Regions from separate parts of the Homo sapiens genome. Here region 2 is linked to region 1. The links come from fine-mapping of genetic effects on gene expression. A gene starts in region 1. The other region holds a variant in brackets. All regions are shown on one strand. Distances are from middle to middle. Region 1 holds the start of SLC9A3 (solute carrier family 9 member A3). Region 2 overlaps EXOC3 (exocyst complex component 3).

The links. PIP is the estimated chance that this variant, and not a neighbour inherited with it, causes the effect.
Region 2: its variant is the best candidate, but not a certain one, in a credible set for the expression of SLC9A3 in atrial appendage (GTEx, PIP 0.87).

What each region holds. Positions count from the first base shown.
Region 1 is chr5:521,176-526,536 of GRCh38, forward strand. It overlaps SLC9A3 (solute carrier family 9 member A3), which reads right to left and starts at 3,274. Exons shown (of 17, transcript NM_004174.4): 1 at 2,937-3,274. The coding sequence starts at 3,147. LOC107986395 (a long non-coding RNA gene) reads left to right here and starts at 3,483. Exons shown (of 2, transcript XR_001742543.1): 1 at 3,483-3,788; 2 at 5,237-5,361. RefSeq lists an enhancer at 4,841-5,361.
Region 2 is chr5:463,083-468,443 of GRCh38, forward strand. It overlaps EXOC3 (exocyst complex component 3), which reads left to right. Exons shown (of 13, transcript NM_007277.5): 10 at 1,208-1,330; 11 at 2,029-2,190; 12 at 2,636-2,763; 13 at 3,645-4,208. The coding sequence ends at 3,816. Among named protein-coding and RNA genes, the nearest start is that of SLC9A3-OT1, 7.2 kb to the right of the region's middle. The variant G/C (reference allele first, on the strand shown) is at 2,878.

The DNA.
Region 1 (5,361 bases):
AAGGCAGGGGAACCCCAGTGCACACAAATAGGGGGCTTGTGGGGAGCCCTTGCCGGAGCCAGACACGCGGCCTGAGGCTGGTGGGCCAACAGCAGCACCTGTTCCTTGCCCAGGCTCCTGGGCCACCTGCTGAGGCCCCAGCCCCAGTGTTTGCTTGAGGCAGCTCTGGCCCTCTGGCCATCCTCTGTCCCAAGCTGCCTGGAGTAGAAATCTCCTGGGATCAACATTGCTGTGGGTTTCAGGGTACCCGGACTCTTATTTCCCCAACCAGGTTACAAATGGCTTGAAGAAGGCTGGGGCTGTGAGTTAGAAACTCTCAGGATGTGTGAGAAATTCAACAAATGTTTGGAAAAGCAACAGGAATGGCAGCTCTTTTCTGCTGGAAGAGACATTTCTGTTCGTGTAACTTGAGACTGAAAGAGTGTGGCCAACCCCTGACCATTTTAAACAACAAAATGTGCCAAGCAGCTTAGTAGGTTCAGACCCCAGTCCGGGGGCTGTGGGCATGTGGAGGAGGCTGGGTGAAACTGGAGAAGTTCCCGCTGTGGTGCAGGCTTGGGCCCCGGTGTCTGTGAAGGCCTGGACCTGAGGGTCCTCTGGGAACACAGGTCGTGCACCTGAGGCTGGCTGCACAAGGAGGACGGTCTGGGCCAGTGGAATCTGAGAAGTCCAGAGTTCACAGGGAAGGGGTTGGGGGAGGAAGCACACAGGGAGGGCTGGGGGCTGTGTTCAAGAGGTGTGGCTGGCAGAGAGGGGATGGAGGGTGGGACACCCTGGGGGCCAATCCGGGCAGACCCAGAGCAGACCTCAGCTGTCACTGCCGGGGCTGCAGAGTGCACAGTGGGTTGAGGGGACGACAGGGAGCGTAAAGGGCAGGTCTGGAGAGGGTCTGCGCCTGTGGGATACCGCGATGAGCTCCCACAGCTGCACAGGGTAAGGCTCGCCTTCCCAGGTGGAGCCAACAATCCGAGACAAAGACAGCCGCTGAGTGCTATCAGGGTGGGCCTTTGTAAAGGACCGCCCTGCCCCGGGGAGTTGCTGCTGGAGCCGGCAGCCTCCCCGCCCTCAAGGACGTCTTCCCAGAACCAGTCCAAGTGTTTGGGAGACCTGAAGGCTTTTCCCTGTGAATAACAAACTCTGAGGCCAGGCAAAGCCCTGGTCAGTGTGCCTTATCTGCCGGCTCCCAGGCGGGGCTGGCTGGTGCCTGGCGGCTGTCATTGGACCTTCAGATGCCAGATTCTGACTCTGTACACTGGGCTAAACTGGGAGAGGCCCCAGCTTGTACAGAAATTAGATATTCACGGCCGGGCGCGGTGGCTCACGCCTGTCATCCCAGCACTTTGGGAGGCCGAGGCGGGTGGATCACCTGAGGTCTGGAGTTCAAGACCAGCCTGACCAACATGGAGAAACCCTGTCTGTACTAAAAATACAAATTAGCTGGGCGTGGTGGCTCATGCCTGTAATCCCAGCTACTCGGGAGGCTGAGGCAGGATGTGGAGGTTGCAGTGAGCCGAGATCGCGTCATTGCACTCCAGCCTGGGCAACAAGAGCAAAATTCTATCTCAAAAAAAAAAAAAAAAGAAAAAAAAAGAAATTACCTTTTCAGTTTACACCAGGGGGGCACTCCCGTCAGAGGAAAGCAGGGTGAGCTTTAGGACTGGGCGGCCGCAGAGCCCAGGTTGAGTCTGGACCTCCCTGATGCCCCAGGGGCCCTTCTCAAGGAAATCAACTGTAGGAGGCAGCCAGCCTCAGAGACTCCCCCCCGGCCAGCATCCCAAGCCCCCAGTGGAAAGCCCAGGGAGGACAGCCTGAGCCTGGAGAGCAGGCAGCCCGGCGGGGAGCTGAAAGACACCAGGGCGAGGAGGAGGCTGCGGAGAAGGGAGGAGGCGGGAGGGCTCAGAAGAGCCCTTATGAGACAGAAAGCAAACACACAAGGGGCCTGAAGGGGAGGGGAGACCCTGGCATAAATAGGGCAGGCGGCAGGCGTCACTGAAGGAAAAGGCGCCTTCTCCAATCAAGCCTGCTGGGCGTACCAGGTTCCACCAAGGCCAAGGTCCTCTCAGCTGTTCTCCCCGGAGCCTGTCCCTCCCCTGTCCTGCGTGGGCGCCCCTCCTCGGCCCCAGCATCGAAACCTCCTCTCGCCCCAGTCCAAAGCTGCTCTGGAAACCTGCCGCGGCGCCTGCTGCTCTGATCTTGCTTCTCCTGGCCCCACTCGGGCCCCCTAATCCCCCCTCCACACGAGTGACCACCTCCCTGCCACCCCTGGAGAGACCCTACCCTGTGGACCAACACATGAAACTTTGATCCCCACGAGCTCCTCAGGAAGCTGACCTTCCTGTCACCTTGCCAGGAGCTACCTGCCGTGCCCACATTACTGGTTCATTGGCGCCGGTTAAGAAGAAGAGAAATCTGACCGACCGGGATTTTCTAAAAAAAAAAAAAAAAAAGGAGGCCCGCCAATGGGAACGCTGCGCCTGTAGGGAGGATTCTGCTGGGTTTCATGCGGGTAGCACCGCTTTTCTTTTCTGCCCTTGTAACTCACGAAAAAACGCCATCACTCCAAGGACGTTTCTCTAAAAAGCCTGAGAACCCCGAAGGAAACCCGGCCCCGGGGACTCCCTGGGCGCGAGCAGCCTGCAGTCTGCGGGGCTCGGAGCGGAGGCGGGGCGGAGACCCCACAGGGACCCGGGAGCCGGGAGTCCGGGGCTCCGAGGCTGTGCCCCCGCCGGGGAGGGGAGACCTCGGGACCCGCAGGGGCGGCTTAGCGCGGCCAGAGTCGCTCCCGAGTCTCGCTCTGCTGGACCCGAGAGCCGGACTCTCCCGGGCGGCCGCCGCGCGGCTCCGACCTGATGCGCGCGGCCACAACGAAGCCCCCAGGCCCAGCAGAGGCGGCCGCACACCCCGCGGGCAGATCCGGAGACCCCGGGGCCACTTACCGATCTTGGCCAAGCTGGCCACGAGGATCCAGAGCGCGATGACGTAGGGATCCTGCACGTGGGCCCACTCGAAGGTGACCACCTGGAAGCCCCCGCTCTCGCCGTGCGCGCCGCCGGGCTCCACCTCGACGCCCCCGGCCCGCGCCAGCCCGCCCAGCGCCAGCGCCAGCAGCAGCCCCCGGTCGGGGCCCCGGGCCCCGAGTCCCCACATTGCCGCCTGCTCAGCGCAGGGCTGGGACGCGCATGTCGCGGGGGGTCCCGGCTGGGCTGGGCCGACGCGCGGGGCTGGGACCCGGCGAGGACCCGGCGCGCTCCGGTGCCGGTACCGGCTACAGTCCGATCCCCGCCCGCCGGGGTGGCCTTTAATCCCGCGGCCCCCTCCCGCCCCGGGGCGGAGCCTGCCCGCCCCCGCCGCGCACTCGCGAGCGCAGACACCGCCGCAGCTCCCGGCACGCCCGCCCCGCCCGCGCACGCCCACCCCGCGCTCCCTGGTGCCCACCCTCCCCCGGAGCCCGCGGCCTGGAGGTCCGGGAGGTCGCGGCAAGAGCGAGCCCGGGACTGCGCGGCCGCCTTCCTGGGGCGTGGGGAGCACAGCGCGGGGCAGCGGGACAGGCGGTTCCGCGCAGCTCCTGGGATGCCCGGGCAGCTGTGGGTGCGCTCGCCCCAACCCTCCTTCATAAACGCAGGGCCTGGGGCTGCGCAGACCCCACAGGGCGGCCCAAGGGTGCACAGGGGCCCCAGGTGTGTCTTCACACAGCCCCTCGCTATTGTCTTCAGCAGGAACCTGCATTCCACAGCCGGACCGGCCACTTACCAGAACTCGGGGGCGCCCAGGCCTTGCGTGGTGCGCTGGTAAGTCTCTCTGCCCCTCCCATCGCCAGCCAGCATCCCCCACCCCAGGCTCTGAGATGGGAGCCCAGGGGCCCCCGTGGTCTCCCCTGCCCCATCCCCTGCCTTTAGACCTCCGCCCAAAACAATTCGATACCCCCAGGGCTTCACACGGATGCGGGGCCTCTGCCCACAGCCCGCTCCGGCAGCACTGGCTCTCTTAAGCATCTCAGGCTCCACTGTGCAAACCACACCCCTGTTTTCCTCCAAGCCCACCCTGCAGCCTTCCAGCCCCAGACCTGGGACGCAGGTGGACTTCTTTCGCTCACAAGGTTTCCAAGCTCTTAGCATATCTGCTCTACTTTCAAAATGTGCACAAAACCAGCGGCTTCTGGGAGCCTGCAGCCACCTGCAAAGGCTCCTGCTCGGCCCTCTACCTGCCCCTTCAGTCCCTCCTATTGGGACCCTCCCTCTCAGAGGAAAGGCTCAACGTCTCCCGGGAGCTCAGACCCCAGCCACTGCCTGACCCCCACCCCCATGCACTCCACGGCCCACACCAGCAATCGGCGCCTCTCGGGGCCTTTGCACGCCCTGCTCCCTCTGTTTGGACGGCTCTTGTGTGCTCCCTTCCTCAGCTCCCCAGGGGCTTGGCTCCAATGCCACCTTCTGGTCCCACCCGATACCCACTCAGCTCACAACTGTGGCAGCTAAGCTCCCGCCTCCCCTGCTTACTCGGTTGGCTCCGGGAATCAGCTCACCTCCCAGCCCTGGGGGCTGCTGGCTTTGACCTTGAGCTGTCTGCCCTCACCCTGGGAATGTCTGCTCCACGAGCAAGGGGCTCATGCATACATCCCAGGAGCTTGGAAGATAGCTGGGCACACAATAGCACTCGCAAGATAGTGGCTGAGCGGATGGATGATAGATGGATGGAAGGACAGATAGGTGGACAAAGGGCAGGTGGGCGGTGGGGTGGGTGCAGATGGAGGATGGATGTGTCTTCTGACATCTGAGTGGGGGCTGCGGAGGCCTGAGGAGGACAGTGCTGAGTTCAATGACTTCACCCTGCAAGGGCCCCAGTTTCATGCTAATGGAAGTGGCCCGTGTAGCACAGGGAAGGTGCATTCAGATGGTGCTCGCCTGGTGACTCGGCTGCTGAGTGGCGTGGAGGGAGGGCAGCCCTGGCCTGGGCCACTGCAGGGTCTGGACAGGGCACCGGGGGAGTGGAAGTGTGTGACTGGCCACTAGTATGGTCTTGCGAGGTGGGAGCATCGGAGTCGCTCTTGGCCTGTGTCCCTGCCCCACCTGTCTCTGTCCCCCACTCCACTCCCAGCCTCTTGTCCCAGAGAAAAAGCCAGCAGGACAAGAACAGGATTCCCTCCAGTCCGGAGCTTCCCTGCTCTTTCCTTATGGTTCCTGGGTGGAGCCGTTAGGAACGACGTCCTCTCTGAAGATGTTGCCCTTGCATTCCACAGGAAGGCCAAATTTCCACCAGACCAGTGTGTTCCATGATGCCCACTGGACCTCCGGCCACCCCACCCCCCAACCAGCCTGTCCTAAGAGCCGACAACCTTTCTCCACAAAGCTGTTCAAAGGGCAG
Region 2 (5,361 bases), 58 kb before region 1:
CAACAAGAGCAAACTCCATTTCAAAACAACAACAACAACAAAATAATAAGACCATGGCCATCTGGTGGTCCTGCTGGAAAGGGGTTCCTGGGATGAGGGGTGGGATTGGTTGCTGATTCATCAGTGTCTGGTTGTGCAAGAGAACAGAAATGTGTGTGGAAGTGTCCCCAAAGAGGCAGACACTTGTAACTTTCGCAAATATGACTTAGCAAGAAGAAAATATTTACATTTGAAATTATTTCAAAATTTAAAAAGAATATATAGAAAAATGGGCAAAAGACATGAACGGCCACCTCACATTAAAAGCAACACCAGTGTCCTCATCGTGAAACTAGACGCCCGATCTTATCCTCGAAGCAATGAATGCTCAACAGGACCTGCTGCTCAGCAGGATGGCAGGAGCCGGAGACGTGGATGCTGTTCAGGCTTGTTGAGGGTGTGGGAAAAAGGGGCTGTTTGTATTCTGTGTGGGCCTGAACTGGGTTGGGTTTTTGAGGGCAGCTTGGAAATACAGCCATTGTAGTTTTAATCTGTAACTTTTACTGGAGTTTTAATTTGTACACTTCTATTGGAGTTTTAATTTGTATACTTTTATTGGAGTTTTAATTTGTATACTTTTATTGGTTTTAATGTGTATACTTTTTGACTGAAAAATTCAACTTTAAGGAATTTCATCAGAATTATACAGATTCACTGTTGCATTATTGCAAAATGTGAAAAAAATTTAAATGTCCATCAATAGAGAATTGGGCAAATAAATACGATAAATATATGTAGCCACTAAAGGTAAAATGTATACATGCACAGATATTTCCATCTTTAACATGTCATTTTGGGAAGCTCATCACAGAAATTGTAGTATAAATCTCCTATACTTAAAGTACACATTTGCAGATTATATAATCAAATTTTTACCTGAGTGCGCATTGCTGTTGTAATTAGAAAAGCAGTGTGACGTAGCAAAGATGCACGGAAGTGCCTCCCTCCCACACGCACTCAGTGCTCGTGGGACGTTGAGGTGAGGAAGTGCCTCCCTCCCACGCTGCACGCAGCTCTCGTGGGGCGTTGAGGTGAGGAAGTGCCTCCCTCCCACACTGCACGCAGCTCTCGTGGGGCGTTGAGGTGAGGAAGTGCCTCCCTCCCACATGCACTCGGCTCTCGTGGGACGTTGAGGTGATGATTTCTATGATCTGTTTCTGCTTTTCAGCAACATCTGAATGAATTGATGACGAAGAAGTGGCTATTAGGGTCAAACGCTGTAGACATTATCTGTGTCACCGTGGAAGACTATTTCAACGATTTTGCCAAAATTAAAAAGCCGTATAAGAAGGTAAGAAGGTGGGACCTAGTTCCCTCATCACCTTGACGCTAGGGCTCACCTCTCACCCTGCTCAGAATTCAGCATCCAGCGAGTCCCTCCGTGAGTGAACGTTCACTTGTTGTCCTATCAGCCCAAGGGAGGCAATAGGCTCTGCGGACGCCACCTCCCTGGGACGGGGCTCTGGTGAGAATGGCCGGGGCCCTGTGGCATGGCCCTCGAGGTGGAGGGAGCCATGGTTCCCGGAGAGGCCCGCGTGCCCCGTCTTAGCTCCTTGCCTTCCACTCACTCCCTGAGGCCCCAGGGATTTCTTTCCGCTTCAGACCCTCCTTCCTGCAGGACCCAGGTTCCTCTTTCCTCCAAAGTGCCTGCCGCGTTTTCCAGATGCTGCGGTCGTTATCAAAGGACAGCAGCAGCCACTGACACGGGCCTGTCTGTGGACCGAGTGCTCATGCGCGGCACTGCCTCGCCCGCGTCTGTCCTGCTGGGGGCCGGAGCTGGCCTGGTGCGGGGGTCCAGGTCACCGTCACTGTTCCCCCACTGAGCCCCCGCTCCTCCTCTGCGGTGAGATGCCAGAGCCGTGGCGGAGCGAGGAGGAGTGGGCTCAGAGCCTCCGGGGAGCCACCGGGAGCCCCAGCCTGGGTTTCAATGAGGGTGCTCCTGGCCGCCAGAGCCGTGGAGCCTGCCGCTGACCGCGCGTGTCTCCCCAGAGGATGACGGCCGAGGCGCACCGGCGCGTGGTGGTGGAGTACCTGCGGGCGGTCATGCAGAAGCGCATTTCCTTCCGGAGCCCGGAGGAGCGCAAGGAGGGTGCCGAGAAGATGGTTAGGGAGGCAGAGCAGCTGCGCTTCCTGTTCCGGAAGCTGGCGTCCGTGAGTGTCGCGCAGGTCCGGGCTGGAGAAGGCCTGTCGCTCCGCGGCCCTGTTCAGCCTCCACCCCGGGACTCGGGCCAGTAGATGGGAGTGTGTCGTGTGTTTGTCAGGCGGGGGGAGCCTGGGTCCAGGTCCTGCCTGACCTTGTGGTTGGACACGAATGTCCACAGAGGTAGACGCGCCGGCCCCGCCGGCTTCCCGAGGCCGCCCACAGCTCCCTGACGGACGCTTCCCAGTCTGTCCTGCGCTGCGAGGTGCTGGCTGCCTCCCACGGTCTCGCCCTCACCCCAGACCCCTGGCCCTGTCACTGAGCTTTCAGAGTAGATCCTGAGGAGTCAGGTGAAGAGGGAGGTTCCCAGTCAGGAAGGGGCTCAGCCAGAATCCAGCTGCTCCCAGCGCCGCGGGACAGCCGAGGGCGGCTCCTCACATTGCTGCTGCCTTCCAGGGTTTCGGGGAAGACGTGGACGGATACTGCGACACCATCGTGGCTGTGGCCGAAGTGATCAAGCTGACAGACCCTTCTCTGCTCTACCTGGAGGTCTCCACTCTGGTCAGCAAGTATCCAGACATCAGGTAAGGGATGCACGTCTTAGAATCCTGCCTTAGAATCCTGGAGTGGAGCGGCAGGTCCCTCCTTCTGTCTGGGGCGGGTGGGGCTCCTGGTTCGCAAGTTCAGCCCTGCAGCAC[G/C]GCAAGGGTTCAGGTGCGGCACAGCGGGGCCCAGGCGCAGGGAGCAGAGCTGCTTCTGTGCTGCCTTCCACCTGGCCTGGGCTACAGTGTGGGTGGGTGGAGCTCGAGGGGCACATCCCGGGTGGGGACAGTGGGGTGGGGGCGGGGCTGTGACAGCTCTGCTGTGTGTGGTGGGGAAGATTTGGGCTGTGGAGTGGCCTCAGTGGGGCGAGTTTAGGAAGTTTCCTCTGTGCTCATGGTGGACTCGGGAGGGCCCAAGTGCAGCTTGGACCAGACACCTTCCGAGGACGTGATTACAGGGAGTCCCCAGTACCAGGTCCAGGGAAGGGGACCCACGCACGTCCCCCCTCCACCATGCTGGCTCCAGGCCCCAGGCCAGCCTTTGCGGCCCCTGTCTCAGGGCACCTGCCACTTCCCCAAGGGGCCACCTCCATGGCTGCAGCCGCGTCACCTCCGTCCCATCATCTCGCTGGTTAAACGTGGAAAAACGGGGTCTTGAGCTCTCCACGGTCTCCCCTCTGGTTGGGCCGGAACAAAGATTTATAAAAGCAGTGTTGAAAAATCTTTCTGCAATTGGATTGAGAAAAGACAGAGTAAGATGAAAATGCAGGCTTGTCTCCCGCTGAAAAGGGAAAGGTGCAATTTGTCTGCAGCGGTCCTCACCCCCTGTGTTCTGTCAGCTGGGGTGGTGAAGCCGTGAGTCCCTGGCAGCGTGGTGCATCACAGGGCTGCTAAGTGGGCATGGGCTGACATCTCCCCATCCCCAGGGATGACCACATCGGTGCGCTGCTGGCTGTGCGTGGGGACGCCAGCCGTGACATGAAGCAGACCATCATGGAGACCCTGGAGCAGGGCCCAGCACAGGCCAGCCCCAGCTACGTGCCCCTCTTCAAGGACATTGTGGTGCCCAGCCTGAACGTGGCCAAGCTGCTCAAGTAGCCTCCGCCGGCCTGCCCTGCTCGCCCCTCCACAGCCTCGGTCCCTGCCTTTAGAAACGCGGGACAGCTGATTGCTCTCCTTGGCCACACGTGCTCCTTTTAGCTGCACGGCCTGTCTTTAGGTGCCAGTGTGATGCACCGGGTGTGCGTCGAGTGAGCGTCCCGAGGCCACGTGCGGAGGCCCCTCACTGTGCTGTCAAAGGCCTGTGGGTGCAGGGCTCTGCCGCACAGCCTCTCTTGGGTGCTTGTTTGTTGCAGTGGTTGAAAGTGTGTGGGGCACAGAGGACGTGCACCTCCCTGCCCTCCTCCTCCCTGGGCCTTCACCGCACCCCATCTGCTTAAGTGCTCGGAACCCCGTCACCTAATTAAAGTTTCTCGGCTTCCTCAGAGAAATGAAAACGCCATGCATTCTCTTTTCCAGTTAAGGTTTTCTGACTACTGATCTAGGATTGCCCAGGAACTGTTGTCAATCACAGAGTAAAAGTCTCCGCTCAGCCTGGAGGGCGCCCTCCTGGTCCCCTCCTGTCTGACATCCCCTCAGCCTAGAGGGCGCCCTCCTGGTCCCCTCCTGTCTGACATCCCCTCAGCCTAGAGGGTGCCTTCCTGATCCCCTCATGTCTGACATCCCCTCAGCCTGGAGGGCGCCCTCCTGGTCCCCTCCTGTCTGACATCCCCTCAGCCTGGATGGCGCCCTCCTGGTCCCCTCCTGTCTGACATCCCCTCAGCCTAGAGGGCGCCCTCCTGGTCCCCTCCTGTCTGACATCCCCTCAGCCTGGATGGCGCCCTCCTGGTCCCCTCCTGTCTGACATCCCCTCAGCCTAGAGGGTGCCCTCCTGATCCCCTCATGTCTGACATCCCCTCAGCCTGGATGGCGCCCTCCTGGTCCCCTCCTGTCTGACATCCCCTCAGCCTAGAGGGTGCCCTCCTGGTCCCCTCATGTCTGACATCCCCTCAGCCTAGAGGGCGCCCTCCTGATCCCCTCATGTCTGACATCCCCTCAGCCTGGAGGGCGCCCTCCTGGTCCCCTCGTATCTGACATCCCCTCAGCCTGGAGGGCGCCCTCCTGGTCCCCTCCTGTCTGACATCCCCTCAGCCTGGAGGGCGCCCTCCTGATCCCCTCCTGTCTGACATCCCCTCAGCCTGGAGGGCGCCCTCCTGGTCCCCTCGTATCTGACATCCCCTCAGCCTGGAGGGCGCCCTCCTGGTCCCCTCCTGTCTGACATCCCCTCAGCCTGGAGGGCGCCCTCCTGATCCCCTCCTGTCTGACATCCCCTCAGCCTGGAGGGCGCCCTCCTGGTCCCCTCGTATCTGACATCCCCTCAGCCTGGAGGGCGCCCTCCTGGTCCCCTCGTATCTGACATCCCCTCAGCCTGGAGGGCGCCCTCCTGGTCCCCTCGTATCTGACATCCCCTCAGCCTGGAGGGCGCCCTCCTGGTCCCCTCCTGTCTGACATCCCCTCAGCCTGGAGGGCGCCCTCCTGGTCCCCTCCTGTCTGACATCCCCTCAGCCTGGAGGGCGCCCTCCTGGTCCCCTCCTGTCTGACATC